3 separate regions of the Homo sapiens genome follow, and regions 1 and 2 are each linked to region 3. The links come from fine-mapping of genetic effects on gene expression. A gene starts in region 3. Each other region holds a variant in brackets. All regions are shown on one strand. Distances are from middle to middle.

Region 1 (10,410 bases), 320 kb after region 3:
AATTAATTAATTAGGAAACAGTATCAGAATAGATTTACAATATAAAGCAGCTGGTGCTATAAAATACAAAATTTAATTAATTTACCTCTGGAAATTTAGAAATAAAAAAGAGCAAAAATTAATAAGGAAACATAATAGCATAAGAGAATGAATGCTATTCATAGTGGTATGCTAAGAAATTTGAAAATCTTAATTGTAACTTTCTAGAAAAATATAAATTTCAACTTTAGATAATTTTTTTCAAAATACAGAAGAACATTAAAGTTAAAAATTTATTTAATAAAATTAGCATTATCTTGACAAAGATGTCACCAAAAAAGTCTTAGAATAATCTTATATATGTACACAGATGAAAAAAGAAAAATGAAATAAAATTGAATCCATTGGATTCACAGTTAGGTAAGACACAGCCAATGAATTCAAGGACTATTCAATGCTGGGAAATTTAATACTATAATATATCACATTGGTAAGTCAACTAAAAAATGCAGCATGCAATAAAACTCAATATCCATTTTAAATACAACTCTTAAAATACTAGGAATAGAATGACAGCTAATATGATAAAGAATGTATCTCAAACTAACAGCAAACATTTAGTGATGATGTCCTGGAAGCATTTCCTTTAAAATCAAGAACAAGAAAGGAACGTGCACTAGAACCATTGCCAGTCAGCGTTGTGAAAGGTCGAGGGGCTACAACAAAGCAGGACGTGGAAAGGAAGAGAGAAAATTATCAATATTTGCAAATGGTGTGATTATAGTCCTAGAAAATCTAACTGAAAATAGTTAGCATTAATAAAAGGGCCCCAGAAACGTGACTGGATATGACATAAATAGTTTAATAATCAGTAGTTTTTATGTACCAAAAATGACCATCTGGAAAATAAAATGGAAAAGAATTCCTATTTACAACAATTACAAAACTTTTAAAATGTGCTTAGGGAAAATATTCTAAACACATGGGACTGTATGACAAAATTAAATTTAACTAAAAGATATAGAAGAACAGTTAGAATAAATGAAAGCATGTCGTATTTCTATAGGAAAGATTGAATATCTGAAGATGCCAAATCTTTCCAAATTAATTCATGAGTTTAAGAAGAACCCTAATCAACAGCCCAGGGTGTATTTTCTTTGTTTATATTTTGGTTTGGGCATTGTTTGTTGTTTTGGTGGGGAGTGGAAAGGAGAGTGCTTAGAAAAATAATTCTAGAATTTATCTGGAAAAATAACCAGACCAAATTTACCAAGAAAGATATGTCATGAGCACAGTGAGGAAAGGATAAGAGACGGCATTCCTACAGATGAACAGAATGGTGCGGGTAAAGGAATCCACGGACAGAGCTGTGTGAAACAAACAACCAGGAAACAGCCTCTAGTAATGATATTTGTTGGGGCATAAAATAAAATTTTTAAAAATAAATGTGTCCAAAATAACCTTGTATTCAACAGCACCATTTTAAAAGTAGAAGGCCAGAGCCATAAAATAATGCATCAGTCAAAGGCAGAAGAAAATTTGCATCCTCCTATGTGTCTCCAAAGTAGCATATACTGTGTACTAGAAAACAAAATCTGTTTTCCCTTACAAAACCAGTTTAAAATTCCCCTCAATTTATGTATGGTAAAAATAACTTTAAGGTGCTTCTCTAAAAAATGAAACTAATATGCAGTGCATCTGTGGCTCATGAGAACCTACTATATGGTAAAGGAAGCAAAGAAGTTTTAAGGAAGGTGGGCGAGGGCAGGGACTGGATTGGTAAGTATTTGGAAATAAAATAACTTTACATACCTTTTTTTTTTTTTGAGACAAAGTCTCGCTCTGTTGCCCAGGCTGGAGTGCAGTGGCGCAATCTTGGCTCACTGCATCCCCCACCTCCCGGGTTCAAGCGATTCTCCTACCTCAGCCTTCCGAGTTGCTGGGATTACAGGCACATGCCACTGCAACCAGCTAATTTTTTTTTTGTATTTTTAGTAGAGTCAGGGTTTCACCATGTTGGCCAGGCTGGTCTTGAACTCCTGACCTCAGGTGATCCTCCCGCCTTGGCCTCCCAAAGTGCTGGGATTACAGGTGTGAGCCACCACGCCCAGCCTACATACCTATCTTATACATTTAGACAAAGCAAATTACAGGTGGATTCAAATAGTTAAATGAAAGAAAATAAACCATAAGACTTGGGGGAAAAAGACTATTTAACTGCCTCCAGAATTATGGAAGACTTTATAAACATGAAAGTAATGGAGGAAGGCACAAAAGAAAAGACTGAGATTCAACTCATAAAAATAGAAAACTTTTACCCACAGAAAAATTACAGAAAATTTTGGAAGGCAAACACACACTGGGAAAATGTTTATTAAAGTGGTAGACACGGGGTCAATATTGCTGCTGTATAAGGAGATCTTAGAAATCAATTAAAGAAACACATCCCCATTAGAAAATTTGGCAAAGGACGTGAACAGATTTATTCACAAAATATAAACTACAAACTGGTAAATACATTTTGATTTTTAAAATCAGCCTCACTAGTAAAATAGAAACATAAATTAAAAGAAGATGCTATTTTTCACTTAATAAAGTAACACAGATTAAAAAAATACATTAGCAATAGGTGTGGTAAAATGGGCTCTCATATACTATGATAGAAATAGAAAAAAGTTATAACCTTTCTGGAAACAATTTAGCAATGCATATCAAGGTCTTTGAAATGTTCATACCCTATTACCACTAATTTTCCATCTAGGAATTTGGGCTGAAAAATAATTAGACAAAGTTTTATATTTACGTATAATGATGTTCATTTCAGCTCATGTATAACAGCAAGAAAAGAGGAGAGAACCTAACATCAAAGGGGAATGTTTAAATGTGTTATAACTCATATGATGAGCTAATAAAACTTATGTTTTTGAAGCCAACAAGTTGAAATGCTCATTTCACATTAATAGCAGGATATAAAATATATGGACAGCATATGAATTTGAATAAAGTTTAAAAGGAAAATAAATATGCATAGTATCACATTTTTGTACAGTATAAAAATAAATTCAATAGTATCTTAATAAAAATTCTGGGCCAAAACTAATGAGATAAATTTAGTATTAGAAATGCTAAGTTATGGGCTCAGCCTCAAAAAATAGGAATGAAAGAGGACTAACTTAACTATTGCATTTATGAAAAGGATCGGGGGGATTTCACTGCCCCAGGCTTGGTGTTGTGATTGTAGTCGAAGCTGACCTGGGTTGCCTTGGTGGCAGTCTGCGGTGTCCAGGTGGGGAGGGGGCAGTCCCTATGCTCTGTACAGTCAGGCTCGTCTGCTCTCCAAGTTTAAAGAGAAGCAAGGTGTGTCCTCCTCTCATGTTGGTCACATTCAGTGAGGGACCCCAGGGGAACCATCTGGAAACTGTTACATAAGGAACTGCAGAAGGATCTAGGGATGTTTTACCTGGAAACAAGGATATTTAGGGGCAATGGAATAGCTGATTTCACATACATAAAGGGCTACATGAGGCTGAAAAATCAGACTAATTCTGAGTAGCTTCAGGAAGCAGAACTAGATTTTGGGTAGGAGTGAAAGGGAGAGGCAGGTTTTAGAGCCATGTAAGGTGTAGTCAGGTGTTCATCTTGCAAAATGGTGAGCTCACCAGGACACAAAGCATCCTTGAGGAGTGAAGATGAGAGGCTTCATCGGGCAGAAGTTGGAATAGAAGGCATCAAAAGACCCAGCCGTAGGATTTCTGCAGTCCCATCATTGACTGACTGGAGGCCCAGGTGGGCAGAAAGAAGGCGTTGAAGGGGCATAGACTCCTTTGGCCATTGGTTTTCAACCTTTGCTTTACAACACAAGCACCTGAGGAGCTTGTTAAAACAGTGCTGGACCCCACCTCCATAGTTTCTGATTCCGCAGGTCTCAGGTGAGGACCTGAGAATTTGCATTTCTGACAAGCTCTCAAGTGATGTTGCTGCTGCTACCACTGGTGCTCCAGGAATCACACTTTGAGAACCATCTCCTTAGGTCAAGAGCAAGAAATAAGGAGATATTCTTAAGCCCGATGGTACAGAGACCTAGAAAAAAAATATGGCACACAGGAAGCAAGCACATACTAAATGACATATGGCTTTTTTTTTTTTTTTTTTTTTTAATCTCGGACTCTTGGACAATAGTGTTGAAACTTGTGGAATTAAATCACAGACTGGAGGCCGTTCTTTCCAGATCCACATTTCTACCTGGATGATGGGCTCTGTCACCAGGCCAAAGAAATTGATGTTGAGTATTAAAAGCCTCTAAGGGGAGCGGATGCTGCAATTTTCTTCCTTCCCCTCTTAGATGTTCCTAGATGGTGGGGAAGTTCATTGTCACTTAGAAATTCATGAAGGAAATAGAATATTGCTCATGGACTTCAGAATGGCCCATAATTAGCTCTTTTGGGTTTTGTTTTGTTGGTTGGTTGTTTATCATTTGTTGTTTTACTGGACCTTGGAAGGAGTCTTCCTCAGTGAAACCCCTCGTTATAAGAACAGATAGTATATGATGTAGACAACCACAGATGGGACCCCCAAGTTTGATGATGTCCTCAGTGTCCTGCAGTTATTCCAACAAAGATGCACAATTCCCGTCGTCATCTCCATTCAAAGTAAGGCTCATTTATTTGAGCTTTCAGCTGATTGGTTTAGGAAGAGAACTGTGTACAGCCTCCCCCACATCTCCCCACCCCTTGCTGCTCTCTTCCTGAGCTCACTATGTCAGTGTGAGCAGACTGTGCGCCTAACACACCGGAGTCTGTTGCCATGACGCTGGGGAGAAATCTGGTTCCTATAGCAACATCAGGTTGACTCGTTGCACCTTATGACACAGGCAGATCTCCAGCAGGGGCTTCTTTGATCTCCAGTTAATCCAGGAGAGATGGACACATGTAGTACTGGAAAATATTACATTTTCCCACAACCCACCTAATCCTGCCTGCCTGCCTTTCATCCTCCACATTACCAAAATAATAATAATAAATAAATCCGCATTCCCTTTTTTTTTTTGGCAACCTGAAAAAATAAAGCAATGGATCACTTTAATGTTCTCAGCAGATTAAAACATAGTTTGAGGGTCAATCCCTATCGCCTCCCTTTCCAAGGCCCATCCATCCGTTAGCCTGCCCCCTGGCATGTTCCT[T/C]GAGGCCTGTCCATCTGGCCTGGCTGGCTGGTGAGAAGTCCTGTCAGCCTCAGGGGTCCGGGGACATGCCAGTAGTGCAATGGCAGCTCCCTGGGCAGGCCTAAGAGGCCAGGGGCTCGTTAGCAATGGTAGCAGATGGATGCGGGGGCAGCCCCAGGAGAGGCCAGCAAGTCCGGTGCCGAGAAGCTCCTTGACTCACCATCCAAAGGAATGCACGGTGTTGGCTTCTGTATGTCACAAAGTGGGCAGCCAGCCTGGGGCACTCGGCACATTCCTGGTCTGGTCTGTGGCGGGAGAAGTGACAAGGAACTGGATCGTTACTGACAGGAAAGCATCTCGTTGTTCTTTAAAGAGACTTTCAGCGAAGGAGGATCCATGATTTTCCCCAACCCTTCATTTGAGTGCCTTTCAGCCTTCCTTGGGGAAAACATCCATATGTTTTCTACTTATATTACTTACTTGTCACCCCTCATTCATTCAGCAAATGCTCACTGAGCTTCTCCATGTGGCAGGCTCCGTTCTAGACCCTGAGCACTGAATAACACGAACGGGGTTTCTCCTCTCCTGGCACCTACATTCTCATGGGGGAGACAGATAATAAGTAAAGAAAATGTCAGGAACATGAATATACAATGGGGAGTTTTGGGGGAGGCTGCAAAGTGAGTGGTCGGCAGAGGTCTCCTGAGGTGACACTGAGGCCCGACTGCCCTGAGGAGCCTGCCCTGGGACAAGCTAGAGAGAGGGTGTCCCAGGCAGCATGCAGAGGCCAGCATGGAGCGCTCTGAACTGGGCAGAGCAATGGGGCAGGAGTTTGGCGTGGATTCAGGGGCCGCAGCTGTAGGGCTTGTGAGCCAGGGGAGAGATTGGATTTTAAGTGATAGATATGGGAACCATTGAAAGTATTTCAGAAGGGAAACAACAGAATTATATTCGTATTTATGAGTTTGCTCCAGCTGCCTTAACAAACCCTCTTCAAGCCCATTTTCCTTTTGCCTTTCCATTAGTGGCGATTAAAAAAAGATATTTGCCACCCTTCTTAGGCTTGAAGGTGATCTGCAAGTCAAACCTCATGCTTTTCTCCAGTATCAGTAAGCTCAGTCCCATTTTTCCTCTCTTGTGCATGACGAACTTTGTTATGCCAGCCTTCAAGGGATATTCCGAATTCCTTTTTCTTAGAATTCTAGAGCCAGCGGGGGCCTTACAGATCACTGGGTCCAGTCCTTATTTTACAGATGAGGAAACTTGGTTGCCACAGTGGTCAAGGGACCTGGCCCACATCACAACTCCGCTAGCCAGGGCTGGGCCTCTGGTGCTAGAACCCAGCACCCTCTTCCGCCCCACAACTAGTAGACAGTAGACTAGTAGTCTTCCCACGTGCACGTTTACTTACCAGTGCTCATTATTTCTTCTCTTCCTTTTCTGATTCATCTCTCTGCCTTCCTCTGGTCCTGTCATTCTTCCCTGGTATGCTGGAATTTTTTAGTAATGGACTGTTGATTGCAGTATGTGGGAAATTTGGCCATAAGTTTTGGTTCTATGTGGTTTTTTATTGTGGTGGCAATTGTTTTTGCCATTTTCTGCTTTGGTGTTATTTGTGGCTCCCATTGGGGCCTCCCTAAGCCCTGCTTATTTTCCCATGACTGGGGACTGGGTGTTATTGTTCGTAACTCAATATTCCAGCCATGGCATTCAAGGCCACCAACCCTCTGCCTGTCTCAATAGCATATCACAGCCCACGCCACATTGGCCTTCCGTGGGCCAGGCCTCAGGGTGGGAACTCAGCCAGGGTGGTTTTCCTACTCTGAGGCATTGGTAGAGCGGTCAGGGCTCCCTGCTGGCTTACACCCACATAGCAGCTCCTAACTCCACAGTTTGTCTTCCCCTCTTCTGTCCACTCCAGCTCAGGGCCCCTTAGCCATTCACTCAGCAGACAAAGAATACTAATAGTAGGTGATAACCACTGCTGCAGGGATGACACATTAGCATTAGGTGACAAATAAACCATCTCCAGTCAACATTATCCCTGCTGCATCCAACCAGCACAGCCGGGAAAGCAAACAATGAGGCAGAAGCGCGTTTCCTCACTCTGAAAGGCATGCATGCACTGGAAGTTGGGTTCATTGGAGAGCAGGGTGGCTTCACATCGGGATCTGTGGCAGGACAGCCTCAGAGCTTGGCAGTGTTGTCTGGGAACTGGGCAATATCAATAATAAGGTGCTTCCAGTGACAGTCTACGTCTTCATCTTTACAAAAGCTTTCAGAGATAAGATTATTGCTCCAGTTTTCAGATGGGGAACAAAATGAGACAGGATTAGTGATTCTTTCAAGGTCAGCAGGCTGGGGAAAGTCAGGGTTGGAACATGAACCCAGTGCAGGGCGCACTTCTCACACACTGCCCTTCTCTCTGGGCAGCAGATGTGCATGTGCTGAGCGGCTGCCAAGGAGACAGGATGGTTGAGACTCTGCAGAAGAAGGGCTGGCATCTTCCCTGTGCTGCCTCAGTGGGACAGGTTGGGCTGAGATCTGCAAGGTACAAGCAGGGCTTGCTTGGGGTTCTGATGAGAATGATGCCCAGTGAATGATGCCCGGTGTCGTGGCTCAGCAGAACAGGCCTGGCATGAGGCTCAGGAGATGCGTTTCCTGGGTCTGGCCCACCTTCGGCTCCTGTGGCACTGGGAGTACTCTTAAGTCTTAGCTCTCTGAACACCAAGTGAAGGAGTTAGCCTGGAGGTCCCCAACGTTACACTCACTGATACCATTCTATGATTTACAAAGCTCTTCCTTGATGATCAGATGTTTCTTTTCCGAGGTATTTCAACTTCCCATTTATAGTTAGTATTGAAGTGCCACCTGTGGGTTTTCCAGGCCGCTGTCTCTTTTCTTTATACATCATACCCTAAGGATGCTTATTATTGCTGCTGTTGTTAAATCAAGTCCTTGTCTTAGTATATGTATCTTAACATATTGAGTTAGAGACAGTGCCTAACTTGACAATTCTGACAGTGTTGATATAATCCATGGAGAGTCTTTAGCCCACTGGTTCTGCCCAGAGCTCACTGGTAACTCAGGCTCTCTGCATGGCAAAGTGGAAGACGTTGACCACACCACTTGATTGGGAGCTGTCTTCCTTCCCTGGGATGAAACCAGTCAGGACCTTCTCACATGGGAGGAGTATCAAAGACTAAACCAACCTAGAAACAGTCCAAGAAGAACCAAACAACGAAGCAAGCAAATCAAAACAGGGGAAGAGGACAAGCAGGGCCCCAGGCAGTTTGGCTGGTGCCCAGCACAGGGCCTGGCACTAACAAGTGTTTGAGAAACATTGAGTGAAATGACATGGTTGCTCAGTAGAAGGAGCAGCCATGCTCAAGGCCAGAGTCGCCCCTTCAGTCTCAGCCATTGCTTGGGGAAGTGGTCTGTTTTTGCCATTAGAGAACACACTGCCATGGAGGACACTCTAGATCAGAAGTCCAGGTCGGAGTCATGGCTTTGTGACCTCCTGTGTGGCTTTGGGCAAGCCACTAAACTCTGAGCCTCTGTATGTGAGGACAAGCGCCCATTCTTCTTCTTATTGCAGAGTCCTCATAAACTACAACTGGATGATGCCCCCTGAGTACCTGTGCTTGAGGAGGGGGGCAAATAGCACCGAGATGGTGTCTTACCCACCTTTGTATCCCCAGCATGTGGCACAGAGCCCTCACTCATTAGGTTCTCAGCAAAGATGAGTGGGTGTTCGGATGGATGCACAGCTTAGGCGGACAGGTGGACGAATAAATGTGCAAGGAAGGTTCTGGGAGCTGCTGGCGGCAAACTTTGCTTGCTTCCCAAGGATTGTCCTACCTTTCTGTAATAGGCTAGGGGGCTGTGAGCTGCAGTATATTTCTGCTCACAGGAGCCCTTTCCCTTGGGGAGCTATGTGGAGGGCAAGACCACCCCAAGAACCCCAACATGAAACCTTAACTGGGATTCTGCTGCTCTAGGCTAAGCAATCCTACATTCTTGACTAGAAGAGTGTGTCTTAGGCATACATTGCTGCACAGAAAACCCCCCACCTCCTCCCTGCTTCACAGAGATGGGGTGAAAGATGGTGGTGCCCTAAGAATGCAGAACCCCTGCGCCACACAAAGCATGCTCGCTACGCCCACTAGCTGGCCAGGAATGGTAGGAATCGCAGGGACCATGATCAGGCCTTTTCTGCTGGGGCCACCTGCTGCTGCTGTTGTCACGTTCTGTGCTCTGCCGCCATCCTCTGCGGGGGTGGAGCCAGCATCTTGGCAGCCCCAGGGTAATAATTAGGGGAGGGGCAGCTCCCCAGCTGGCGTGGTATTTGAGGAGGGGCCTGGAGGAGAAGGAAGGGCTGGGACACGGCCAACAAAAGGAGAAATTAAATGGGCTGTCCTGGGAGCCCATAGTTAGCATTTAAACACCAGCATGAGCTGTGGGTTTCACTGAGCAGGGCTGTGTGTGGCCTCAATGCCCTCCTCTCCCGGCCCCCGTTCTGTTTGTGAGCACAAGCTGGGAGGACTCTCAGCAGAGCCCTAAGAGGTGATGTTGTCATGCCGAAGCCCAGGATTCAGGGGCTTTCATGCAGTGCAAGGACAAACATGGCGAACACCACATGCACCCAGCTGCAACAGCGCTGCACCCCTGACCTACTCACAGCCCTCAAGGAACTCACCGACCAGCCTAGCCTTACAGCGGCTATCACAGGTGTGCTGGGCCCCTGACGTCGAGGGATTTAGGGTTTTGTTTTATTTGCTGTCAGCATGGTTCGCGTTGCAATTTCGATTGTGGGAAGACAGCCAGGAAATACTAAAGAAACACCCCATACCTCCTTCACCACAGCCACAGGTACTGAGCATTGAGCACACGTTATATGTTCTTTATCTCCTCCAGTCTGCACTGCTCACTTAAAAGGTGGGGCGTATTATCCCCGTTTCACAGCTGAGTAAAGTGAGGTTCACAAGAATGTTGTGGCTGGCCCAAGTTCACACAGCTAATGAGGAGGGGAAAGGATGCCAAGTGAGTCCGCCTGGCTCCTGGAGCTCCTTCTGCTTCTCCATGATTTCTGAAGAACACACGAGGCCTCCCTGTGTCCTGTGGGAGAATTCACTGTCTCTACTACGTGGGAAAATGTGAAAGAAGGTAGGCCTGAGTGCTCCCGTAAGCTTTGGGGAATGAGAGCTGAGTGAATTGGCCTTACTAAGTGATCTGGCAGTAATCTGGTGGTCTTGAGCCTAGAAGAGGGTTGG
Region 2 (10,410 bases), 190 kb after region 3:
TACCATGGTCCTTGAAATCAGTGATATTGAACAGTCCTAAAAAGTAGAGAGGTTAAAAAGGGATTTGGATTGCATTTTAGCAATCTTCTGTTGGGGTCTGTGATGTGTGAAGACACATCTGCACCTTTACTGAGGCAGGTAGAATCCAACAAAAGCCACTGATAGGGCTCCAGGCATGGGGCAGGGCCTGCACTGAGGGTTATGGTGACAGCGGCCTGAGCCACAAGCTGGCTGGAAGGACTCCTGGAGGGGTGAGACATTTCATAAGATCTGGGAGGCCAGCGTCAGCGTTGGGCACACCATCCCCCAGAGTGCCTGATATTGGTGACCTTGCTGCATGGCGGATGCTAATGGGTATTGACTGAAGGGACAAGGTGCCTTCTCCACCCATGCTTGGTCATTAGCACATGGTTAGGTGGGCACGCGTGGCCTCCTCTTCCACCTCTCTTTTGGCCATTTTCCTTGCCCTCTCCCCCACCCCCTGACCTCTGGCAGCCCAGAGCTCCCCTCAGCAGTGCTCACCCAACTCCCTCAGGGCCTGAATTTCCAGGGTGAGAGTCCCCTCTCTACACCGTCTCAGTGGGTGCTTCTGCCAGGGTGGGATCTCGCCAGGGATTATGCTTGCATCTTAACAGGAATTTACTGGGGATGGAAGTATTAACCCAAATGGAGTTACCACAGAGGGGATTTCACATGTTTCTCAAATAATGCCAGAGTGAGCCAAGGTTTACATAACCAGTACGAGGTGAGGGGGGTGGGAAGAGGGCAAGCATTTCCTTGCGAGGCTCCTGGCAGCTTTATTTCTGACTTGCGAGTGGTTCAAGAAGCCTCCATCCTCCCACGCATGGAGAAGACCAGCATTGACTGCAGCCCCGCTATGTCCCCGCGCTGGCCTGGCTGTGTATTGTCACATAGATGATGTCATGGCAGCCTTAGAGAAATTCTCTGAGGCAAATCATATTGTCCCCATTTTTAAAGATGAGAAACCAGAAGCCAAGGATCCTGTAATTTGCCCAAGGTCACGTGAAAGAGCTGGAGTTCAAGTCATCCCAATTCCAGATCTTTTTATCATGCCATGTTTTTTATGCCTCCCCCCTTGTCCCAGAGTGTGGCAAGCAGAGGAGAGCACGCGTGTGGGATGGGATCAATTGCAAAACGTGTGCAGCCTGGCCAAGCAGGTGGGGGAGTGGCAGGACCAGCTATGTGTATTCTCATGCTCAAGTTCCTCTGGGTCTTCCGAAGACAGATGGGGCAGGTAGTTCCAGCTGCTTTGTGCCTTCACCAGCTGAGCACTGGCAGGTGGGGCATTTTTAACCTCACGCCTTGACTATCCCCTCTCCCTGTCACAGTCAGCTCTGCCTATTGTCCTCCGTGGCTCAGAAGCAGCTATCCTTAATCATTCATGGGGGAATTTTGTGGAAAGATCCCTCCCAATGTGGCTGCATCTGCCATAAAGTGGAGATTTTTTGTTATGTTTGATCCCCTGCTGTATTCCCAGAGAACTCAGTGTGCCTGGCACGCAGTGGGTCCGCAGTAAATTTTTGAATGAATGAGTTCGCAAGGCGTTTCTCCTGGTTCTTGCCCATCAGAATTTCCATTTCTCCTGCTCCCTGGGCTGGCACTACCATGCATGGTGCCCTTGTCCCTGCCATCGCCATCATCATTCAAGCTCCCTGCTCCATCTTGCAGCCTCATTTCTTAGCTGTAAAGTCTTCCCAGTCCTCCATTGTCCTTGTGCCCTCTGCATAGCCCCTCCTCCCAGTCAGGCCGCATCCTCCGACCTGGCCTCCCACCTCCACGCTCAGTTTTCCCAGCCATACTTTGCTCTTGCTACATTCCTGCCACCCTATCTCCTGGGAGTCTCTTTGTCCTTCAGGTCAGACAATGCAAACTTAAATCTTGCTGAAATAAGCAAGAAAGGTACACAGGTGCAGGAGGAGTCTTCACTTTCCCGCAGAAACATACTCACTTCCATTGCTACACAGAGACAGCAATGCAAGGATAATGAAAACTAGCTACTGACACTTGGCCTCCGTGCTGGAGGAACAATGGGGGACCAGGGTAACTGTGATGAACTGAAATGACAGGTGTTTCCTAAAGGTGGCGGCCACAGCAGACGGTCATCACTGAGGAAGTCTGTGCCCGCTGTTATGAGCTCTTCTGACTTTTCAAGGCAAAAATTTGGATTTTGTATGAAACCTACTGTTTCTTAAATGATGACTCAAAAAAATTTATTCTTAATCAACTATGTCAGTGGCCTGTTGGCCTCTACTTCAGGGAGTCTTCCTAGATTATTGAGGCCCAACCGGATTCTTTACTTCCTACCTGCTCCTAGTTAGTGAAGCATCGTCATGGAGAGGACAGACCTCTGGCCAAAGAACCTAAAGACTTGGGCCCTGGTCCCGGGTCTGCTTCCAGCCTCAGTTTCCTTGTTTGTAAATGAGAGCAATAATATTTGGCTTGTCCAATAATCTACCATGGTACAGCTGTGTGGCTTGTAGTTTCAAAGTGCTTTCATATGCGTGATTTCATTTGATCCTCAAAAGAACCCTGTGTGGTTAGCAGGGGCAAGTGTGGTTATTCTTAATTTAAGAGGAAAGAACTGAGGGTCTGAGAGGTGAAGTGACTTACCCACGATCATAGGGTTTATAATTGGTAGAGCTGGCTGTGTCATTTGGGTCTTTTATCTGCTGTGTGGTTTGGTGTTTTGTTTGAACTTTTGGATAGAATGAGATCTGTCTTTGTAAGCTGTTAAGTGCTATGTGGGTGCATAAGAAGGAGTAAGGAGCTTACTTATATGGGTTATTACTAATAAGTGTATGCCCTCCATTTCCTCATAGTGTGGCACTCATCCATACACCATGGTAATTGAGCTCTGACGATTTGATATGTCATGATCTTACCTCTCTAACCAGGTTGTGTGTGAGTACCTGGAAGCAGGGATGAAGTCTAGTGCAGAGAGGCCCATAGAATCATTTGGTAAGTAATTGCTGATGAATTGAATCATAGGAAAGTGGAGATGCCACCTGAGAGAGAACCATAACTTGAAACCAAAGCTGGGCTGTGCCTGAGGTTAGTCAGGGGCCTGGTGGCTCATAGTCCTAAACCCTCAGCTCATGGTCTGCTGGTAGCCACTGATCAAACATGCATGATAGCACGTGTGACTGCTGCCATCAGTGCGATCACCATCCAAGAAGACCACATGGGGGGATGATGAGAAGGTATGAAATGACATAGTGGAAATGGCATTTTGGAGTCAGATCTGGGTTTGACTAATCCCTGGCTGTGGGGCAACTTAACTCTGTTGAGCCTTAGTTTCTTTACCTATATAATGGGATAATAGTAGCTACCTCATGAGTCTGTCCCTGGAACAGGCCAGGTGCTCAAGTGCAATGTGTAGTCCAGTTATAAATTGCTTTGTTAGAGCAGTACTCACAAGGGCACTGTTTATCTGGTTTTGCCAATGCTGGGCACTGAATTCCTCGCTGCAATTGTCAGATGAGGTTCAGTCAATACAAATATTCCTTTATAACAGTACTGGTAGGAGCCTTTTAACTTGAGGTTTTATTAAGATAATAAAGACAACTGGAGAATGACTAGGTGCACATAAGGGAAATGGTGCTGTTTTCAATTAAACTTCAGGCCAACTATGTACAACTATGGATATAGAACTGAGTTATGATGTGGAATTCCAGTTTCTCTCCACTGAGGACCTGGGTGAACTGTTACCAGAGAGAAGCATCTCTGGAGAGCTCCCTTAAGCATCCTGCCCACTCTGTGGGGCCATCCCCTGCTGCTCTTGGCTCAGATTCATCTATCTGTTTCAGGGCCTTTGCCCTCCTGAGTCTGTAGTTAGCCACTTGCTCCAAGAGTCTTTCAGCTACAGCCTTCATTAATTTCATTGTGAAGGGGCCTTCGGCTCCCCTAGCATGCGTTGTGGGACGTCAGCTGCCTGCTGTGCTCATTACCACTAGCCCAGGAATGCGGTGTTGACTCATGGCTGCAGCTCCGCTTTTGAACAGAAGCACTCAGGGCCTGAGCCTGTATTTATCACTAGGCAGGGAAGGTCCTAAGGGAAGGTGCCAGGTGAACACAGACCTCATCCTTCCATCATTACCTATGCAAAACACTAAATACAGTCATCTCCTCCGGAAACTGCCCCCCAGGTCCCAGCAGTAGTTCAGGATTCCCCTGTTAACCATGTTGTGCCCACTACCTTTCAGGCTGCACACACTTCCCTCTGTGTTTAGAGAGAAGGGAATGCAGAAGTCTGCCGTGTAGGGCATGAGGGGTGAAGCCACAGGTCAGTCCTATAAGCACCTCCTCCTTCCTAGAGCAGAGCCATCACCTGCTTTGGGCTGTGCCAAGGCTCTTGTTGAGCAGTTCAGTGCCTCACGTGGACTCCCCCTGCAAGAATTCACTGAGGATTATTGGTTAATGCTGATAAAGCACTTGGGCTGTAAATATCAAGTTTAATGTTAATAAACAGGGGGATTAGGTTCATTTATGTAAAAGGGAATGCTTCACAATGGATACTGGGCAGGGGAAGACTTTACTTTTATCAACAAAAAACAAACAGAGTAAACTGTAAACCCAGACCCATCGAAGCCAAGGCCTTCTTGTCTGCTCACCCTGACATTCCCACAGGGTTTTTCTCTGGGGCTGTAAATGCAATTCTGCTGCTGAACTGATTGCCTGAACGTACTTGTGTGCTTGATGTCTTTCAAAAAGAAAGTGTCTAGGAAAGTGCAAAAGAGGAGCAGGCAAGACAGAAACAGCATGGCCATGTGGAGGGGCCGCGCTGATCGTGAGAGCAAAGGGAATTGTATTATTCTTTGGGATTTGCATACTTTAAGAAGGTGGTTCAATTAATGGCATTCTGTTCCTCCTAGTTGAAGACAGCAAAATGGAAGCATAAGGATTTGCTGAGTCCTCCCTCCAGGAAGCTTCTTAGCTGAGCCATTCTCAGCTCCATTCTCCATTGAGAACCCTTCAGCACATGCATGCTTGCTTAGCCACCCGGGTTTAAATTTTCATTGACTGAACAGTAAAGGGGAGAAGCAAACACACATGAGATCTCTGAGCAGTGTGTTTCAGGTGCTTTATAATAAACCTCTCCTTGCCGGGAGAGTGTCATCCCATTTCACAGACCAGGCAACTGAGGCTCAGAGCGGGTGGTCTAGAATGTGCCCATGCTTGGGCTCCTTTCCTTGTTCCTCCCAAAGGCAGCAGTTATACTATTTCCTTTGTGTAAAAATATTTATCTTTATGACCCCAGAACACCTAGTACAGATCCATAGCCATTTCTCTGTAATTCTGAAATCCCCAAGTCTCTGAAAAGTGAAAGTTCATTTATTATCCCTTTGACAGCAAAATCTGGCCTTTCCTGAATTCATCTGGGGCAGAGTTGTCCTAAACTGACACAAGGGTAGTTGCAGTCTTATTTAACCTGCTTAGAGTGAATATTCATATGATTTACTGCAGAAATACGTTGGCTTCTGGGGCCCTTCACCCTGCTGTGCTATTACATACAGTAGATATGCAAATGACTTTACCTGACACATTCTGAATTCTGAAATGCATTTGGCCCCAAGGGTTTCCAATAAGGGACCGTGGAGCTCTAGAAGGCCCTGCACACAGTGAGCACTACCTGCATGTTGTTGCTTAGTTGGAGTGAAACCTCAGTACCCTAACTTTGTGCGTGGTACACCCATGGTGGGATGGACATAGAACCAGGCCCCCTGTTCAGAGTCACCACAAAGCACCTGCCGTTAGGGTGGCAGGAGGAAGGGCAAGCAAACAGAGCAAGAGAAGATGGTGCCGGCAGCAAACAGCACAGGGCATGGCGTGGGGACAGTTAAGGTGAACAGTGCCCACAGTCAGTGCTGTGGCAGGACAACTGCAGTGGGGCAGGCTCGGCAGAGCTGGGCAGGGGATGCAGATGCTGGAGACCTTGCTGCCCAGCAGATGAGAGTGGACCCAATTCTGTAGATCGGGGGCCGAGGCTGAATTCTGAGCAGGAAAGTAATCTGCTGAATAGGAGGCTGTAGTAAGGCCTTTTAGATGGTGGCTCCCGGAGTGAACAGGATCCTGAATCTCAGGCTTTCCTTATCCCACTGAGCCATGCCTCCCTGCCTGAAACGTGTTTCTGAGTAATAGCAGCTAACACTTACACAGTGCTTCCTGTGTAATAGGCACTCCTGTAACTGCTGGACCCATGACGACTCTGTGCAATTCATACCGTTGTTGTCCCCTTTGTATAGATGAGAAAACTGAGGCACACCGAGGGTAGGTCGTCAGGTCCCGTGAGT[C/T]GCGAGTGTGGGGGCTGTGGTGAGAACCCAGCCAGCATGGTGTGTGTGTGCTCTTAACTGCTACGCTCTGTCCTAACCTGTTCTTTTATAGGTCCCAGCAAGGAAGCTTTTCTCCTGGTCCACACCGCTGCCTGGGCATGGAGAAACCTGCTGGCACATTGGCCAAGGTTGGGGGTGAGGGGTGATGTCATGACCCATCCAAGAACTGTAATCTCCTGTCTTCAAGGAGGCCAGTTCCCTGGGCTGACGCTTCATGCATAGCGGCTGCATCCCTGTCTCCCCACTTCTCCATCCCCTTCCAGGCCGTTCTTCCCCCATGCACACACATGCCTACACATGCCTGCAATAACTCCCCGATAGGTAGAATTAAAATTTTGAAAAACTTAAGCTAAGACTATAAAGTAAGAAAGGCTAAATCAGCTTCCTTCCTTCTTCCCTTTGACTCCTGCAAATCTGTAGCTTCCTTCAATTCATTCTGGAATTTTTTTCCAGTTTTCACCCTGATTATCCTTTATTCTTGTCTTAAAAATAGGCAGGACATTTTCTTTGGGCAGCGGGGATGGCCTGTTATAACCTTGCTCTCTCTATATGGTCACAGTGCATTGCATGGAAGTTGGGAGCACCCTCGCCTTTTCCTGTGAGGTCACTCTTTGATTTCCTGCACCCTCTCTGCCCTGTCAATGCCGCAGGGTCTGTTTTTCCTATAAGTCTGATGCTCTCTTGTCCTTGAACTCCTTTTCCGGGTGGGTTTTAATTAGCTAAATTTGCATGTGACAAAATGAGATATAACCTTCGTGGGGAAATTCCTCACAGCTTTCTAGGCTGGGAGAAATCGACCATGCCATTTTGTGATGGAGTGTCCCAGTTTAACACGGCAATGTGACTGCAGACTTCATCCGCCTGGTGGGCACTTTGTCCCCATGGCTGAGTTTCAGGCTTCCTGACCTTCCTGGTGGGCAGCCACGGCGAAATCTAGACTTCCTGGTCCCTCCTCAGTTCCCTATGGACGATGGCAAGATTTTGCAAAGGGACAAAAGGAAACTTTTGCTGAAACCTTCTAGGTCTTTAATCACTTGTTCTTTTTCCTTCTAAAATTCTGGATTCTTGCCGAGCCTCTTTGTGCTTCCTCTTTTCATTCTCTGTCACCTCCACTTAGTCTCGTTCTCACCTGCTCCTTTCTCTTTATTCTCCAAGGGAGGGGAAGACAACTTGAATTTTAGGAACAAAGCAAGAAACAGTACATGGAAAGGAGAAAAGGTGCTGTGGCCACTGCAGAGGGGGGACAGGTGGCTGAGAACCTTTGTAAGCCAGAAAGAACTCTTCTCTCCCATTCTCAAATATAATTAGTTATTTCTAAAATTGAGCTGAATCGTGGGCATCTTTTTCCACTCAAACTTTTTTTAACTTAAAATTAAGTTCTATGTATATATGTGTGTGTGTGTTCATTGGAGAAACAGTAACACCACACACAACTTAGCTAACCTAGGAAGGTTTGGCTCAAATGTCCATTGCAAAGTAATTAAGAATCTCCTCTCCTATGCTGTGTTTACACTGTACATTCCCATAATGTCCACTTCCTGGCTGCTGGACTCTGCTCTATAAATATAACCAGTGAGCAGTGTCTCTTTCATGCTCAGCTCCTGACCAGTTAAGGGGAGGAGGAGATGAGTCCAGGAACCAGAGTTGGATGCTGGGAATCTCCGTGCTGTCCTTCCAGGGAACATTTCTCTGCACCGGGCCAAGGACCCACGGGATCATCCCTTTCCATTGTGAAGGAACCGAGGCCGCCTCACTGGGCTCCATTTTCCAGTATTTTTAGTTAGCAGCCTGCAAGTGAGTGTTCTGCCTGCAGTGCTGTAGAAACTGGCAGATGCTCTGTGTTGAGTGGTGTGCAGGACAGACAGGAGTCGGTGCTGGAGAGGCGATGGCTGCAACTGGGGCAGAGAAGTGAGCCTTCCTGTCTTCCTGGGGGTGATCATCCCCAAGGCAGTGCATCACGCTCCCGTGTTCAAAGCCGCAGTGGTATAAACTCTCGAAGAGAACAGTGTCTACCTTTACTCTGGAAAGAAGTAACCGAAAGACAGGAGCGGATGTTGCCTCCTGGCAAGAGGGCCTCACGGTGTGGAGGGGCAATGCCAACCTTGGCGGTGACGGACTTAGGTTCTATTATGGCTCTAATACTTGCTGACTCTGGGACCTTGAGCAAGTTATGGTAACCCTCAGCCTCTGTTTCTCCCTCTGTACAATGAGCATCACGATAGTCCTGTTCTCACAGAGCTGCTATGAAGGTTGCATCTGGGAAGCACCTGGCACCGTGCCTGGCGTAAAATAGGCCCTCAGGAAATGTTGGCTATTATTATGGCCATGCTTGACTGGCACCTCAGTTTGATGTAGTGGTTGTCACGTTTCATTTCTAGCGTTCTGAATAGGCTGTCAGTAGAGAGGTAAGGAGGTAAGGACTCTGGGGCCAGACTGCCTTTCTTCAAATCCCAAGCCTGCCACTTAACAGCTCTCTGACATTGAGCAAGTTAATTCATGTGACTGGGCCTCACTTTTCTCATCTGTAAAGTGAGTATGAAGTGACGTATACTTCACTGGGTCATGGTGAGGGGAAGTATGCAAAGCAGGAGTTGGTGAACTGGCGAACAGGCCACATCCGGCCTGCCATCTGCTTTTGTAAATAAAATGGTATCAGAACATAGCCACACGTATCCATTTATGTCTTGTCTGTGACTGTTTCTCTGCAGCAGCAGCAGAGATGAGTAATTGTGACAGAGACTGTCTGTCCTACAAATCCTAAAATAAAATCCTAAAATATTTACTACCTGACCCTTTACAGAAAAAGTTTGTTGCCCTCTGATTGTAAAAGGTTTAAACAGTGTGTGGCACAGAGCAGATGCCAGGTAAATGTTTGCTGTTATTCCTGCTGGTACTCCTCTGCAGTTCGTCACCCCCAACCCTCACATTAGCTCTGTGAAGTGGGCACACAGAGGTGATGATTGTTCCCTGTTTATTGCACCTGGGATTCAGGGGACTCACGTGACCTGTCCAAGGTGAGGCCAGGCCTAAAATCTAGTCTAGGGCTCACTCGGCCGGTGGCTCCGAATCAGTGACATCTGCCTTGCCTTCTCTCTTTTTTTTTTTTTTTTGAGATGGAGTCTCACTCTGTTGCCCAGGCTGGAGTGCAGTGGCGCGATCCTGGCTCATTGCAAGCGCCGCCTCCCAGGTTCACGCGATTCTCCTGCCTCAAGCTCCGCCTCCCGGGTTCACACCATTCTCCTGCCTCAGTCTCTCGAGTAGCTGAGACTACAGGCGCCCGCCACCACGCCTGGCTAATTTTTTGTATTTTCAGTGGAGACGGGGTTTCACCGTGTTAGCCAGGATGGTCTCGATCTCCTGACCTCGTGATCCACCTGCCTCGGCCTCCCAGAGTGCTGGGATTACAGGCGTGAGCCACTGCACCCGGCCTGCCTTGCCTTCTCTTTAGATTCCTCAAGGACAAGGATGCATCAGTCCATCTCCCTGAGGCATGGACAGTGCCTCACAGAGCCCACCCAGTCAGTATCTGCGGAGTTCATTTGTCTTCTGTGCTCCACCTGGCCAGCATCAGCACTGAGCACTCCAGGAAGAGACATTTCCAACCCTGGGCCGTTCACCTCCCAGCACCTGGAGTTGGGAGCACTCAGCTTATTAACAGGGCAGAAACTCCCAGGTTGCACGCACAGCACCGAATCCTGAAGGGCACAGGCCAAGACCCTCTCTCCATCCCGAGACCTTTAGTCAGGATTGTGGGTGTGGTTGATGACAGCTGATATCTGGGTAGCAATTTATGGTTCACTGAACACTTTTACATCCATGATCTCATTTGATCTTCATAGCAACTACTCAGGGGGACAAACTGGGTGATGGCCTACGCTGTAGCTGAAGTGGAGAGAGACTGGCACCTCCTCCAAGGCCATGCGTTAAATACCCACTGAGCCAATGGAGCCCTGGTCATCCATCTCTAATCCAGTGACCTCCCAACCCCAGCCGGCCCTCCTGACTTGATCATTGTGGTGATGCCAGTGCTGTAGCCTTGGGCACTCATTCCATTGTCTAA
Region 3 (10,410 bases):
GTGGTAAGTCTCTTTGGCAGGGCTGTGGTGAATTCAGGGCACATAGTAGATACTCAACAAATCTTTTTCACAGGGGTGAAGGATGATAACAGCTAACATTAAATGAGCACACTGTGCACCCCACACACTTTACTTGGACTATTTCATTTCATTCTCACAACCACCCTATGGAGGTAGGTACCATTATTAGCTTCATATTGTAAAAACTGGGTGTTAAGAGGTAAAGCCAGGTGTCCACATGCCCATAGCTCATAGCAGGCAGAACCTGGCTCTGTGTCTGGCCTGTCTCCAAAGACCAGGCTCTTCGCTGTATTTAAAGTGCCTATCATAGCACCTGATACTCACCAGGCATATTAAATGATGATAATTAGTATGAATTCAACAAACATATATATTGAGGGCAACTATGTGCCAGGCACTATTTACCCATAAAAATATCTAAACAAGTAACCTGGTCACAGGTGGGAGCACTACACTGTTGCATCAGCCAGCTTTGGTCAGGGAAGTGGTACCACCGTGAGTGATGTGGAGGAAGGGATTGATTGCAGAGATTAGACCTTATCCAGTTGTGGAAGCTGGTGAAGAATCTCTAGAAGGCTGCTGCCTCTGCATCTGAGGATGGGTGTGAAGTTGCCGTAATGCCAAAAGGCCGGAGGAAAGCAGGACATGATGTGGGAGAGAGTGAGGCCAAAGTGGAGCCCACAAGGACAAATAAAACCCTTGTTTGCCTTTCACCACTTCCGATCTCGACCATGAAACATAAAGCTGGAATCTTGACTACAGAGCTGGACACGTACTTTGCCCAGGCCTCAGAGTAGCTGAAGGAGGAGATCTAGCAGGAGCTGGAGGAGCTGTGGGCTCCACCATCAGGGTGAGCCAGCAATTCGGTGACAATGAGCGCATGCTGCTGCTTCATGTCCACCTTCCAGAGGCTCCACAAATACCTGTTGTGGACAACCTTAACGCAGAACCACATAAGGAAGGCAATTCTGGGAAATAGGTTCCAGCTTAGTGAAGTTGACCTAATGCAAAACCACCACACTGATGTTCCCATCGCTGGCCTTTGAGAAGGAACGGTTGTGCGTGGCCCTATGTGGAGATAAAGAAGGTAAGGTGTCAGAAGGCACATTTAAGCTGGGCTTTCTGACTCCACTCTTCCTACTCTGGCTTGCTAATCAACTTTACCTGGTTTGAAATGCCCACCCTTATATACAGGCAATTATGTGGATTAGAAATTAAGGATGAAACATCTTCCCAAAAGGTCACTGTTAAGATTTACCCATCATCTTGGTGCTCCTAGCTCTCTACGACCAACACAGAGTGGCTGACACTTCAACCAGGCAGCTTGGATTGCAATGAGGACAATGCAATGCATTTGGGCTGGAAACACTGCACAGGTAATTTTTGCAGGTGGGTGGCAGCATTTAGTGCTGAGTGGCTGTTGTGGTGGGCAGAGGGAGAGAAATAGAAGGGACACCTTGCAGACTTGATGGGAGACTTATTCTGAAGAGATTGATTAGCAGTGTTGTCCCTGGCTAGGCAGTGGGGGGAGGGCTCTGTGTCAAGAGGTGTGTGTGTGCTAAGGGAAGAGGAAGAGCCTGCTTGGCAACCTGGCTTTTCAAGCCTTGGACCAGACAGGGAAGAAGAAGAAGAAGAAGAAACATTTACGTGTAATCCCACCTCCCAAAGACAGCTACTGTCAACACTTTTTTTCCCCACCTGCCCCAGATTGAGGATACTGTCAACATTTTGGTGTGAACCCTATTTAGTCTTTTCCCTAGTTCAAATATAAACCTGACTTTAAAAGGAAAATGAAATCATAGTGCCTGTAATATTTTCGTGACTTGTTTTTCTTTTAATGTAAATCATCTTTTTCCACGTTACTAATATTCTTCCTTAATATTGTTCATGTCTATGTAGAATTTAACTGTATGAATGCACTCTAGTTCATCTATGCGGTGGTTAAGAGCGTAGGCTCTGAAGACTGCTAGGGTTCAAATCCCAGGTCTTTCAACATCAACTGGCTGTGAAACATGGGCAAGTGAGTAAACGTTTCTGTGCTTTGGTTTCCTCACCGGTAAAATGTGGATAAAAGCAATTCCTTCACAGGGTTGTTTGGAGGAGCAAATGACTTTATGTATGTGAGGCACTTAGAATAATCTCTCAGTGTTATTATTTAACCAACATTTTTGTTGAATATTTAGTTCATTTCCAGGTTTTCACTCTTACAAATATACTGTAATTAACAAATTCAGTGCACTCTTAATTGCTTCCAAAGAAAATATCTGTGGTCACATTTAAAAATCTTTTCCAGAGTGAATCATGCACTCAACACAAATTGAGTGTCCATATGTACAAGGCATTATGTTATGCACAAAGAATAAACACAGTTCTCTTCTTGAAGACACCTAAAATGTAGTAAGGAAGAGGAGAGAAAAAGGCTCATGCAAATATAAGCAAAATACTATGCAGAAAGAGGGCACACATGAAGACCTATGGGAGATTCTTTAGCTGGAGAATCAAATCATTCAATGACAGAGAAATGCAGACTCCCTCCTCTGCTCCCACCACCTCCCAAATCCCCAAATCGGAATTCACAATGGTCTCCTTTTGTCATGTTGAGAATTTGTTACCTCGAAAGAGCACACCCAGGGCTGTGTTCCAAAGTTAAAAGCTGGGATATGGGCGTATACTGCAAGACCAAATATTTAGGAAATACCTTTTTCTGGAAAGGAAAGAACACATTTCACAGCTGAAAAGAGAAGTGAAAAATGAAACTAAAGAAGCGTGGAGGTAATATTTACTTGCTAGATTTATACAGTGCCTACCTTTAGAAAAGCTGGGCTATAAATCCTGCACGTGACCCCCTAACACACATACACTCTGTTCCCAGTGACTTGGCTCTTTGTGAATTATCTGCAGCATATTTTGCAATCATTTCACCCTGTTCATCTCCCTGCAGCCCTGCCCCCACCAGCTCACCCACACTTCACCCCTCAGAAGAATGAGTAAGATAATAGTAGAGACTGAGTTTGGTGTCAGATATGCCTGGGCTAAGTCCAGGCTCCACATTTACTCAGCTGGGTGACCCTGGACATTGTAATTCAAGTCTCGAAGTCTCAGTTTCCATATCTGTAAAATGGGGATAATCATGACGATAACACATAGCTTATTGGATCGCAGTGAGGATTAAATAAGATAAAGGCTGTAAAGGGCCTATCACAGTACCTGGCACAGAGCACTCAGTAGTGTTAGCTATTATTATTATTCCTGCACTTGTGTGTAAAGGGGATGCAAACCAATTTTACTATTCATTTAAACAAATTATCAGCTACAGCAGCCTCTGAAACACAGGCCTATAATGCATCCTAAAGTAAATGCGAAATATTTGAATTTGTGTCATTTCTAATTTTCTCTATTAAGTTGAAAATTGAGTATGAACACACCAGAATGGCAAAGAGGCCAGATTTCTCTTGTAACCAACAAAATTGAGATCGCTATTAACATTAGAATGAAGATGACCGAAACAGCTTAATACTTCTCCCAGGGGCACTTGCATTTTACACTGGGGCCAGAACCACTGGACAAAGGAAGGAAACAGGAGTGGTAAGGTTTCAGGTACCAAGGGACGGACAGATGCATTTTCATAGGGGGAATTGCAACACTCCTGAAAGTATCTCAGGCACTCACTCATTTATTCAATACATATTATGTACTTACTATCTGCCAGATACTGCTCTAGGCACTGGTGAACAAAATAGATGAGACACCTGCCTTCATGGGGGTTACATTTTAGTGGGGGGATACAGACAATAAGCAATAAAGTTAATGAATAAGTAAACTATATAGTATGTTAGACAGGATTTCAGTAAGAGTAAGGGGAGATAGGGAGCGCTGTGGGGGTCTGTCAGTACTGAATCAGGATGAGGTCCTGGTGAGCCTCACTGAACAGGTGAGATTTGCGGAAAGCCTTGAAGAAGCCGAGGGAGTTTGTGTTTCAGGCAGTGGGAATAGCTAGAGCAAAGGCCTTACAATGTGCGTGTGTGTTGAGGGGTCATTCCTGGAGTGTCTGGGGCCCAGCCAGGAGGCTAGTGTATCCCGAGTGAGGGGGACAGCAGTAGGAGATGATGTAAGGGGATTTGTACTCAGCCATTCCTGTAGGTCACCACAAGGACCATGGCTTTTACTAAGTGAAATGGGTAACCATGGATGGTTTTGAGCAGAGGAGTGCTGGGATGTGATGTTTTAAATGGGTTACTCCGACTGCTGTATTGAGAAAATACCAGAGGGGAGAGGGAAGGTAGACCAGGGGGATCAGCCACAGGAGAAACCTGGGTGAAGGATGCTGGTTCAGCCCCAGGTGGTGGCAGTGCAGGAAATGAGAAGTGGTCAGGTTCTGAATTCACCTGAAGGTAGGGTCAACAGGATCTCCTGATGGACTAGACGTGGAATGATGAGAGAAAGGAGTCAAGAGTGACTCCAGGATTTTGAACTGAGCAACTAGAAGTATGGGATGGTCATCGACTGCGATGGGGAAGGCTGTGTGAGGAGGAGCAGGCTTTGAAGAGATCAGGAATCCAGTGTTTGGATGTATTAGGCTTGAAATGTCTATCAGACGGAGTCAGCTGTAGTCTGGAATTCAGGAGAGAGGTCTGGGCTGGAGATAGACATTTGATATAGACAGCTGCTGAAAGCCACGGGAATGGTTAGGGTCACCCAGGGAATGAGGGTGGATGTGGAGGCGAGGAGGTCTTATGTGGAGGCAGGTAGAGGTTTTCCCCAAGAGGGAGTTGTAGGCCCCCCTGAAAGGGATCACGAAGCCCCACTGGAGGGGAGCCCGGTCCTGCAGGGGGTGCCGTGGAACTTGCTGTGGTTGCAGGGAGTGATGGAGGGAAGTGTTTGCTTCTCCGGGAAGGAGAGGTGCTGGATAGATTCCTGCCGGAGTTGCAGAAATAATTAAGAGAAGTAGGTAAGGATATCCTAGTAGAACACGTGCTCGGCTGCCTCCAAGGAATTATTAAACCTGGGTCTAGGAATCTGTTCAGACATCTGGGCACCGCTGCCTCGCCTACCAGGCTCCGCCTCGCTGCCCCTCCCGCTTCCCCTCCCCTCCTCTATCTGTCACTTCTACAACCGCTCTGATTATAATTGATCAAACAGAATCACGGAATCACGGCTCATCTTGCCGTTTTGTTCAGTGGCCCGATCCGAAACGAGACTCTGGTAGTCGGGCAAATTGTATTCCTCCTCCTTGGAATTCCGCTCACAGAGGCCTTCCCGGCGTGGCCGGCCCAGCAGGGACGCGCCGCCGCAGCGGAGGAGAGAACGCGGGCGGGGGGCTGCAGGCCGGCGCGGGGGGCGCGACGCCGCCGGCGGGGCGCGAGGGGGTGTGTCCGCGCCGCGGCCACCGCGGCCACCGCGGCTGGCGCCCGGGTGCGCCGCGCGCCCCGGCCTCCCCGGGGGCTCCTCACGCCGCCCCTCGCCCGCCGGCGGCCGGGGCCCGCTCCCTTTGACGTCATGCGGGCGGAGGGCTCGCTCGGGCGGCGCTGCCGCGGGCGCCGGGAGGGGGCCCGACTTCGGGCTCCAGTCCGCCGCCGTGCGCCCCGCGCCGTGCGCCCGGCTCCCTGCGCGCCGCCGCAGCCACATCTGGAAGCGTTCAGCGCGTCTGCCTCCGGCGCGCCGGGCGGGCGGGCGGGCGGCGCGGGCAGGGGCGGGCGCGGGCGCGGCGGGGCTGGGCCGGGGGGAGTGAGCGCGGCGCTCTCGCGCGCCCGGTGTCTCCCTCTCGCTGCCTCTGCAGAAACAGCTCCTGCCAGAGCGGCGCTCGGCGCGGCGCGGCGGGCCCGGAGCGGCGGCGGCGGCTCTTCCTGCCTCCGCGCCCAGGAGTTGCCGGCTCCCTTTGACAGCAGAGAGCCGGGCAGGGGCCTCAGGAGGACTCGCTGGGAGTGGGCAGAGGCGCCTCGGCCCCTGCCGGCCCAGGCGGGCCCCGCGCGCCCCCCGCCCCTCCTCTCCGCCTCTTCTCGCCCTGCCTCTCCCGATTTATTTTTTCAAATGGTGTAGCCGCCGGAGGTGCGGTGCTCAGTTCTTGGAAGGGGCCCGGATGTACTGAGGATGCGTTACAGTTTCACTCGAGGAGGCAGTAGTGGAAAGGAGCAGTTTTTGGGGTTTGATGCCATAATGGGAATCAGGTAATCGTCGGCGGGGAAGAAGAAACGCTGCAGACCACGGCTTCCTCGAATCTTGCGCGAAAGCCGCCGGCCTCGGAGGAGGGATTAATCCAGACCCGCCGGGGGGTGTTTTCACATTTCTTCCTCTTCGTGGCTGCTCCTCCTATTAAAACCATTTTTGGTCCATGGTCAATGAGAATACGAGGATGTACATTCCAGAGGAAAACCACCAAGGTAAGGCTGGACCCCGCCGCCTCGCCGGGGCTCCCTGCCTTTTCCACCGGGTTCCTGCCCTACCCGCGCTCCCCGCGGCCCCGGGGCCGGTCCCTGCGGAGTGGCCCGGGGCCGCGTCCGCGAGGGGCGCCTCCGCCTCGTCGGAGCGCCCGGGAGCCCGGCGGGACCGGGGCCCGAACCGCCGCGCGAGACGGAGCGGAAAATTCCCGCCCCTCCCCCTCCGGGCCCCAGCTTCTCCAGAGCATGTGTTTCCTGTGAAATTCCAGGCGAGGGGGGAAAAGTTCCCCAAGTGGCTGCCGCCGCCTCGCTTTCTCGCGTCCGCCTGGAGAGCCCGGCTGCCTGGCCAGCCGCGCGGGGGGCAGAGGGCGCCGGCGCCGCGGAGCCCAGAGGCCCGGGGTCCCTCGCCCGGCTCGGGGCGCGGCTGGGAGCGCGCGCGCGCGCACCCTGCGCCGGCAGAGCCCGGCGCCCACGGCCGCCCCTGGGGCGCCCTCGCGCTGCCCGGCGTCCACTCTCGTCCAGGCGCCCCTGCCCTGGGCGGCGCGCTCCAGGTGGCGGGTGGGGGCGGCGGTGCAGATGTGAAGCCCAGCGCGCCCCTCTGGTTCCCCCTCTGTAGGTCCCCTTCTTCCTCTCTCCCTCCCTCCTCCGCCGCTCACCTACACCCACCCACCTCTCCACTGCTGTTGACCCCGAGCGCGCCCACGCCGCGTGTGTTCTCATTCGCACCCACATGTGGGCTAGCACCTGAGGATGGAAGCGGCGAGGAGCCGGGCGGTGTGTGGGCTTTGCTGTTTCGTGTTTGAAGGAGATCATGAAAGGGTGTGCCTGGCTCACGCGGCTCCATACTATTGCCCAGTGTTTTCCGAGCATCTCCATCCTTGGCCGCGAGTGTCACCAGCTCCCCCTGTGATGGTGAAAGGCAGTCAGGTAACTCCCTACTTCCTGGAAACTTTCTCCCTCACCGCTCTCCCCCCATATTAACAAGTTGTTTTCTTGGACGTTGCTTAGCATTTAAGGTTTTGGGGACGGGGGGTGCAGACAGGGTGGTCCAGCGGGGCTTTCTGGCAACCTCCAGGCATGACATCTCTTTCTTCTCGCCACTGCTCTGTCTCTTTGGGTGTAGTCTCTCCCTTTTCTCTCCCAGTTCCCAGAGCCTCCCTGTTTGCACTCTTCCTCTTCTCTTCCCCTGAAAGCCTATCTGTCACTGCTGGTCTCTGTTCCTTCCCTGGGTTCTTCCCAGTGATCCTCTGAAGACCAGCCTGGTGGAAGGAGTTGTCTCCAGGTCTTTTTGTCCAGCTTTTTCCCTCTGTTTGCTCCCAGCTCCACCTTTTGGGGACAGGGCCTTCACTCTTTAGAGCCAGAAGCTGCCATCCAGCCTGCCTGGTCTCCATCTATCCTGAAACCGATTTTGGGGCCAGTCTTCTCTGCTTTCCAGCATGGGTGGCAGCTTGGGGATTGTGGCCTCCTTTGGAAGAAAGAATCTTGTCAAGGGTCATGGGTTCTAGGGTGAGCCAGAGCTTTGGGGTCACAAGGGCAGTATCCATGTTTGGATTTCTCTACTGTTGACCCCATCCCTCACCTGATCCCCTCTCCCTTCTGTAGCTGATGGGCTAGTGAATGGTTTAGGAGGGAAGGAGTGAGACACAAAAGAGGGTGGTATTTGTGAAGAGTGGGGATGCAAGATGACTCCCCTCCAGGTTCTGAGACTGCGTGCTTTACCCACCTCCTCAGTCTAAGCAGCATTGAAGAGGAGAGCTCTGTAGTATTGCCCTAAGTATCACTGTCAATGGCAATGTACTGTGGTAATAATAGTGATTATTCACCTTATTCACAGGATGATAATCTTAACTAGTTTACAAGGTCTCCTCTTAGTGCAGGATAAACCCCTTCTGAACCCATTTCCTTACTCTGGTTGTTTTCTTTGGCCCCTTTGCCTCTCAGCATCTCCCTGCTGTATGCTGGGAGCAGACATTAAAAGTAGGAGTGCCAACCCCAGAGAGGTTCCTGAGAAAGGTAGAGGGGAAGGGAGCAAGGGAGCCAGCGGCTGAGAGCTCTACCTTTCCAGCAACATGCCAGCAAACGCTATGGCAACCTGAATTCCAGTTCTCTCCCTTGAAGCTGCAGTGATTATATAATTCATGGGAGCAGTTTTGCCTCCATTTCTAGATGCGGTTCCCAGGTGGAAGAGCACCAAGATCCCTGTCTCCCCTCTACTCTCCATCTTCTCTTCTTTAGTTGGTTGGCATTGCCGAGGTTGTTGGGGTAGGAGAGGGGAGGAGGGTGGTGGAGGTGGGAAGGGCAGACCTAGAACAGAATGAATATTGACAAGGAAGAGGTTGCTGTGGCTAATCACTAAAGGGGGCGGGTGAGCCATCATAGGGGTTAGAGTTTCAGGAGACAGAAGAGGAGTCTAGGACTGCCTCAGAAGATCAGTAATGGTGACGAAACAAAGAGTCGAGAACCAAAAAAGTTGTCAGTGGCGGGGGCTGTGCATTCCTCTCTTCCCGACATGCTCTGAGATGTGGAATGCACCAGTCCTTGCTCCCTCACCTTTTCCGTGGAGTGTGTGCATGTGTGAGTGTGTGTGAGTGTGTGTGTGTGTGTGTGTGTGTGTGTGTGTGTGTGTGTGTTGAGGGTCGAACTGGAGACTGGAGGTCAGTGCCTGGGAACAGCCTGGAAGTTCATTGAAGGACCAGCTTCTGACCCTGGGTTTCAGGCTGGGGTGGCACACTCAAGCCTTGCCTCGCCTCTGGTGCCCTGTCTGCTCTGGGCCTGTGCCAGCCTCCCACTTTTCTGGGCCGATTTTCTATTGCAGGCTCCAGCTAGCAAATGAGTGTCTTAATAGTCAACCATTGAACAAATAAAACACCAGAATGTCCCTTATCTGCTAGAGACAAGGCAGAGGGGAGAAACATGTGTTTGGGGAGTGCAAGACACACTGTGCTTTTCTTTTAACTACTTAGCGATTCAGCAGAATAAGAATCACTGTAATAAGGTAATAATAATAATGATCACAGTTAACTTTCTTTACAAATGGTCAGAGAACAACATTGCTCGCACATCAGCTTGAGCAGGTTAAAGAAAGCTGTGGCAATAGCTTTGCTTTTTCTTGATCCTGCATGGAGAAAACTGGAGGAAAGGGGCTATTGGAGTTCATCATATTATTCCTACTATTGGTCAGGCACTTTTTAGTGTTTTAGAATATGACAATATATTAAAAAGAGTCAATTTTTCATTATTTCCATAGAATACACACTAACAGTATTTAAGTGTGTGTGTGTATACATACACACATGGAATAAGGAAAAGCTATTTTAAATAGATCACACGAGAGGCTAATGCCCTTCAGGGACCTGGGGTGTTGAGAGAGAAGTATTGATAATGCAGTCTCCTAAGACTGTTTAAAGATTTCTTCTTCATAGTAAAGGGAGACTTGTTCTTACAGGTAGATGCTGCAGGCACAGTGCTTTGTAAATGAAATGATGAGCCGTTAGCCCCGTGGGACCATCTCTCAGTCTTGGCAATGACCTAGGTCTCTTCAATTTGTTCTTCAAATAAAACTGCTTGAGTTGGGTTCTTCTGTAAGACCTATCAAAGGGATCCAAGGAGCATACTGACTGGAGATTTCGAGGCCCTGCTCATCTTGGGATCCCTGCTTCCTAGTACAGGCCGCTGCTCAGTCCAGGGCCTCGATGCAAGGCTGAACAAATAAATGTCTGCGTGAATGAATGAATGCGACCTGGCCAGACCTGCAGTAGATGTGGCTTCTGCCTCTTCCAGTAGGTGGCGCCACAGGGCTTAGGAGTCAGGAAAGGGGCTTCAGGGTCCGCCTGGTGATGAAAGGTGTAGGGGGAGTTTAGAGCTTGTGACCTGTTGGGGCTGTGCTGCTTCCATCAGGCCCACACCTGCCCCGGCACAGGTAACCCAAAAGACCAGTGTGTCTCCGTGCCGCCGCACACACTGGAGGCCCTCGCGGCATCACTGAGGGACCCAGGTCCCACAGTGACCTCTCCAC

What was found.
Region 1: its variant is fine-mapped to the expression of CACNA1C in cerebellum (GTEx, PIP above 0.99). The same link has a PIP of 0.9 or more in cerebellar hemisphere.
Region 2: its variant is fine-mapped to the expression of CACNA1C in cerebellum (GTEx, PIP above 0.99).

What each region holds. Positions count from the first base shown.
Region 1 is chr12:2,367,612-2,378,021 of GRCh38, forward strand. The region is part of intron 3 of CACNA1C (calcium voltage-gated channel subunit alpha1 C); the gene reads left to right. Among named protein-coding and RNA genes, the nearest start is that of CACNA1C-IT3, 100 kb to the left of the region's middle. RefSeq lists enhancers at 9,108-9,711, 9,712-10,313. The variant T/C (reference allele first, on the strand shown) is at 5,159.
Region 2 is chr12:2,240,329-2,250,738 of GRCh38, forward strand. All of the region lies in intron 3 of CACNA1C (calcium voltage-gated channel subunit alpha1 C), which reads left to right. Among named protein-coding and RNA genes, the nearest start is that of CACNA1C-AS4, 22 kb to the left of the region's middle. The variant C/T (reference allele first, on the strand shown) is at 6,312.
Region 3 is chr12:2,047,214-2,057,623 of GRCh38, forward strand. It overlaps CACNA1C (calcium voltage-gated channel subunit alpha1 C), which reads left to right and starts at 5,774. Exons shown (of 47, transcript NM_000719.7): 1 at 5,774-6,398. The coding sequence starts at 6,350. CACNA1C-IT2 (CACNA1C intronic transcript 2) reads left to right here and starts at 1,139. Exons shown (of 2, transcript NR_046768.1): 1 at 1,139-1,397; 2 at 1,921-2,250. RefSeq lists an enhancer at 2,371-2,872.